Linked DNA regions of Homo sapiens: region 1 is linked to region 2. Evidence: fine-mapped expression QTL. A gene starts in region 2. The other region holds a variant in brackets. All regions are shown on one strand. Distances are from middle to middle.

Region 1 (2,927 bases), 100 kb before region 2:
AAAACTGAGGCCAAAGTAGGCATAGAAAGCAGACTTGTTACCTTCAAAGAAATAGCTTTTAGATAGTCAATTGGTTATGCAACACAAACAATGGAAGCCAGAGGACAGTAGAATAATATCTTCAATATGCTCTAATAAAATAACTACCAACATAGAATCCTATACCCAGAAAAGGATAATTTTAGAATAAAGGCAAAATAAACACATTTTTAAATGAACAAAAACAGAGTTTGCCACTTGTAGACTGATTAAAGAATGTACTTCAATTAGAAGGAAAATGGTCCTAGACAGAAGATCTGATACAAAAAAGACATGAACATTTTAAAAATATTGAAACTGTACATAGGCAAATCTAAATGAATACATATAGTATGAAACAATAACTGTGTAACTTGAAAAAAACTATATAGAAATAAAATGCACAACATTAGCATTTAGATTAGGAGAGGGTAAATGAAGTTAAAAATCTTTTAAAGTTCTTGTTTTGTCCAGGAAGTGAGAATAATTATTATCATTAGCCTTTATATGTAAATAATGATGGTTTTAAGTCTTAGGCATTTATGAATTTGTATTTAATACTCAAAATTACAAGGCAAATGAGAGGCGAATATTCCATGAGTTCAATACATGGTCAATAAATTGAGAAGGCATTTTTGCCATAGAGGGGAAAACAACATTCAGAAAAAAGATGAATATATTTTAATTTTCAAAAATTCATTAGCAAAATAGAATATATCCATTAGCCAAACTTCAAACTCTATTGTCTTTAACAACAACAACAAAAATCCTTGAGTACTAATGTTTTTACTTGCTTAAGTCATATTTATTTAGGTATAATCAACATACAGAAAAAAATCATCCTTTTCAGGTACACAGTTCTATGAGTTTTGACAAATATGTGTGTGTGTAATCACACATATTTTACTGTGTAATCACCAGTAAATATAAAAATAAATACTAAATTGTTTCCATTACCACCATAATGTTCCCTCCTTTGTTGTTAATGCCCTTCCAATCCCCAGCCTAGGCAATGACTAATCTTAATCTGTGTTCTTTCCCCGTAGCTATGCCTTTTATAGGATATAATATAAACAGAATTATATAGTATGTAGCCTTTTGTGTCTGGCTTTTTTCACTAAGCATAAGACTTTGGAGATTCATCTATGTTGTTACATGTATCAGTACCTCCTTCTTATTGCAAAATAGTGTTCCATTGTATGGCTATGC[T/C]ATGATTTAACTATCTGTTCATCAGATTATGAATATTTGGGTTATTTCCAGTTTGGGGCAATTTTTAATAAAGTTGTTATAAACATCCATGTATAGATCTTTGTATGAACATATATTTTCATTTCTCTTGAATAAATGCCTAGATGTGGGATCATATGGTAAATGGTAACACATAACCAGATAACACATAACTTTATAAGATTGCTACCTGTGGTGGACAGACTCTAAAATAGCCCCAAATTATCTTAGCCTCCTGGTATGTGTATCCTTGTGTAATACCTTTGTCTTGAGTCTGGGTGGAACCTGTAACTTGCTTCTAACCAATAAAATACATCAAAGGTGATGGGGTGTCACTCCCATGGCTGCATTACATAAGTTTGTAACTTCTCTCTTGCTAGTAGACTTTCTTCTCATCCTTCTTGGCTCTGATGAATTAAGCTGCCACATGGCACAGTCCAGTGGCAAGAAAATGAGGGCAACCAATAGGCAGCAATGAACTGAGGCTTTCAATGATAGAGGCAAGGAACTGAATCCTACCAACAACCACATGACCTTGAAAGAGGATCCTTCCCTGTTTGAGCTTCAGGTGAGACCCCAAGTGTGACTGACACCTTGATTGAGGCTTTGATAGAGTCCTTGAGGCAGGGGACTCAGTGAAGCTGCATCTAGATTCCTGACACATACAAACTGTGAGATAATAAATGTGTGTTGTTTTAAGCTGCTAAATATATATAACTTATTATGCAGCAATTGATAATACATTACCTAAATGTTTTCTAAAATGATGATACCATTTTACACTCCCACTAACAATGCATGAAAGTTCCAGTTGCTTTGAATACCACTAGAGTGATATTGTCAATTTTGTAAATTATAGTACTGCTAAAAGGTTTGTACTGGTATCTCATTGTGATTTGAATTTGTTTCTCTAATGTAGGAGTTCTTTGTATATTCTGAATGCTAGTGCTTTGCTAGTTATACATGTTGCAGATACTTCCTCTTACTCTGTGGCTTGCATTTTGTGTTCTTCGTAATGCCTTTTGATATGCTGACGAAGTTCCTAGTAAAGTCAAATTTATCAGCATTTCCTGCTCTCATAAATGATTTTTTTTTTTTTTTGAGACAAGAGTCTTACGCTGTCAACCAGGCTGGAATGCAATGGTATGATCTCCGCTCACTGCAGTCTCCAACTCCCAAGTTCAAACAATTCTGGCGCCTCAGCCTTCCAAGTAGCTGAGACTACAGTCATGTACCACTATGCCTGGCTAATATTTTGTATTTTTAGTAGAGACGAGGTTTTACCATGTTGGCCATGCTAGTCCCAAACTCCCAAGCTCAGGTGATCTGCCTGCCTTGGCCTCCTAAAGTGCTGGGATTACAGGCATGAGCCACCATGCCTGGCCTCATAAATGATTTTTTTTTTTTAAAGAAATCCCCCCTACCCCAAGGTCATGAAAATATTCCTCTATATTATCTTCTAAAAACTTTATTATTTTGCTAAAAGGGATTTTGGGTGTACAGTCTGCCTTAAAGTCATGCTACATAGAGGTCCAGTTTTATATTTTTTTCACACATGGATAAGGAGAAAAGATAGAAAATCTTTGTGACCTTAGGTTATCACAGATTCTTGGCTTAGTCACAGCAAGTAAATATCACAGAAGGAAAACTGACAAATTAGACTTGAAATTCAAAGCTTCTGC
Region 2 (2,927 bases):
CATGTCTACTACCGGAGGAAATTTATTTTTCTCCTTTTAAGTACCTCTATGTTCAAGTTTCTTTTCTGTGCTTTCTAACCTCTAAGATCACTATATATTTTTAAATGAATGGTGTAAGTCCTTACAAAATTTAGGCATTTTTTTTTCTTGTCAGATAAATAACAGTTCAACTGACTTTGTTCAGTACAACACTGACATCCAAAGGATACTCGGGTTCATCTGAAGGCCTCTTGGGCTTCTGCTGAGTTGGTTTGATTTTCAAATGGTCTATGTAGGCAGTAAGCTGCTCATGGAACATTCTCTTTTGAAACCCTGGGCATTTTTTGATCTCTTACCCATTTATCAAATCTCATCACATTAAATGGCTCCACAATGCAGGTGGCCTGTGTTTTCCTAAGTGCCTCCTCTTCTTAAGAATGTATTACTCAGTTCATTAATGTTTCATACTTAAGTATTCTGTGTATTTAATTTTTTATTTAATGAAATTTCTAACCTTCAGGCTGACGAATTATTCAGAATGTTTCATCCAAGCTGTTGGAAAAGTGCTCATTAGCAGGGAGTTTTGAAGATGGAATTTTAAGAAAGGGGTTGGCAGGATCCCAAACACATATAGATCTAAGCTTTCATAAATGCTTCCCTACCTTAGCTATGGAGGAAGAAATTGTTGATAAGCAGATAAGTTTTGCTTTAGTTTTTACATTTTAGTGACAATAACAATGATTTCTGTGGTCTGATAAAAGATGTTCGTTTAAAGAGTTATCTGCAGAAAGCTGTGTGGTCACTAATGTTTACTTTCATTGACAAATGAGATCGTCTTGTGTGGGACTATCATCATCAAATGAGACACAACTGAAACTAAAGCAGCCATGCTTACCATTCGGTTTAAAATTTTTAAAATTAAAATAATGCTCCTAACGAAAGGAGTCTCAGCTGAATTAGTTTGAGTGTTGGCATGGACTGGGCTCAAATCACCTGCTCATCTTTAACACCTGCCTTCAGATTTATGGGCGATTAAGAACTTAAGTCTGAGAACCTATGAGACTGTCACAGAAAATAAAATTTCAGTTCTTCGTCCATTAACTGGTTCAGATGAAATTTGGGGTCAGAAACAACCAGAACGTTAAATTTCATTGTAAACTTAAATCGCATTCAATGGTTAAAGACTACAAAATGTATGTAGTGCAGTTAAAAAACCTCACACAGCAAGAGGTTATTGAATGTTTAAAGATCCAAAATTTCAACTTTTTGTGGTTAAGTACAGTTATGTTGGGTAACAAAGTTGACAGCAGGTTTCTGTTACCCCCCTGTTGGAGGAGGAGGAGGCGCTACCACACGCTTACCTTAGGGAAATAACGTGCACTTTATAACCGTTCAGGTAAATCGTTGGGTGAGAAAGAAGAATAAAGGACACAGCCGGTGGAGGGACCCCAGCACACAGTCCCGTGGGTGCTCCGGAGGAAACGGCCGCAGCCCCAAATCTCCTAGTCTCTCTAGCAGGGAGTTTTCCCGCGGAGTCTCGCCTGGCGGCCGGAAGCCACCTCAAGCCGCCCACCCGGAAGCCGTCGTCTTGGCAACTGGGTATCGTCCCACCCCCTTTTCTTAGCAACGCCTATCGCCTTAGACGTCTGAGGTCAGCCGAGCCTCGATTGGTTCCTCTGTCTTTCACTCTGGGAGACGTTTGAGACCCAGCGTCTCTAGATCTCGTATTTGAATTTGTGGCGCTTGGTGTCCGCGAGTTGCCGAATGAAGCTGAGCGTCTCAGTGGAACCAGGGATCTCAGGGGTGAGCGACCGCGAGGGGAGAGCGACGAAAAGGGCGGCCGGAGCTGGAGGGGCGCGGAGTTAAACAAAAAAGGGCGGCCGGAGCTGCAGGGGCGCCGAGTTAAACACGTCATTTCCAGATGGGGGGCTTCAGGCGAGCTGCTTAGCTCCCCTGAGGCAGGCCCTCCGTCTGTTCGCCTTTTCGTAGCCTCTGAGTTTTTCCCTCACGTCGTTTTCCGGCAGTCCCAGAGACGCCACGCCTGCCCCCGTTCTGTTGCCCCTGATGGAAGGCTCCTCTTAACGCTACCTTCCCTCTTTCACAAAATGTCTCTCAGCTTCCTTATTTCGACGTGCTTACACCTCCCCCAAGTATAATTCACTCCCCACTGATGTCTTTGGTAGTTTCATCCTCGTCTTCATCACTAATACTATGAGACACGGGGTGCGTGCACTTGACGATGTAGAAAAATGGTTTTCGCGCAACCTGGTGAGCGTCCCACACCTCACAAATTGAATCCAAAAAATTCCTTATTCATAAAAGATGCTGCTGTCCTACTCTTCCCGACCGGGAATATCATGACGTGGAAAGCAGCAAGTGACAGCGTTTTATAAAGCGCTACAAAAGTAAGCTATTGATGCGTTCACATCGGAAACATAATTGTTTTGTTTTCGGTCGGACCCTCTGGATCCATAGGTTTCGTATTGGGTTTATGGATACTGTTCAGACTTTGAAATGAATAATGCCAAAAGTTACGTTGGAGGACAAACTGAGGATTGATCCCAAGCACAAAAGTAACCACTGATTAAAACCTTCTCTTCATTAACCTTTAGCTTCTTTGTCTATTGTGATACTTCTCCCACCCCGGTGGATTTAATTTCCATTGAGATTTATGAACATTTTAGGAGTTTACAGTCTAAATAGACAGCTTTCCCCACCTCTCCTGTATATGACCATGAAAATCCTCTATTAACTTTCCAGTTTGATAATGCAGTATGAGCTTCTATATGCTTAGCCTCTAGAACAGAGATTCTTTTGGGGGTGGGGGGTCTTAGTCCTGTTTAAGACCCAGAGGAAAACCTTGGAGCTTTTCTCCAGAATATGACACATACACACAAAATTTTGTATTAGTTTTAGAGAGTTGTATTTTGTTTTAGTAGAAAAGAGAT

Which allele goes with the higher level. Alleles are on the strand shown, and positions count from the first base shown. SD is a standard deviation of normalised expression in the study named.
For the expression in prefrontal cortex of the gene that starts at base 1,704 in region 2, T is the low allele of the variant in region 1 and C is the other (large effect, 2.1 SD a copy in CommonMind).

Evidence for each region. PIP is the estimated chance that this variant, and not a neighbour inherited with it, causes the effect.
Region 1: its variant is the best candidate, but not a certain one, in a credible set for the expression of LINC01572 in prefrontal cortex (CommonMind, PIP 0.79).

The regions. Positions count from the first base shown.
Region 1 is chr16:72,768,169-72,771,095 of GRCh38, reverse strand. All of the region lies in intron 3 of ZFHX3-AS1 (ZFHX3 antisense RNA 1), which reads right to left. Among named protein-coding and RNA genes, the nearest start is that of ZFHX3-AS1, 100 kb to the right of the region's middle. RefSeq lists an enhancer at 1-364. The variant T/C (reference allele first, on the strand shown) is at 1,228.
Region 2 is chr16:72,663,747-72,666,673 of GRCh38, reverse strand. It overlaps LINC01572 (long intergenic non-protein coding RNA 1572), which reads left to right and starts at 1,704. Exons shown (of 14, transcript NR_126330.2): 1 at 1,704-1,782. ZFHX3-AS1 (ZFHX3 antisense RNA 1) reads right to left here and starts at 1,541. Exons shown (of 4, transcript NR_171704.1): 1 at 1,341-1,541. RefSeq lists enhancers at 1,743-1,802, 1,843-1,962.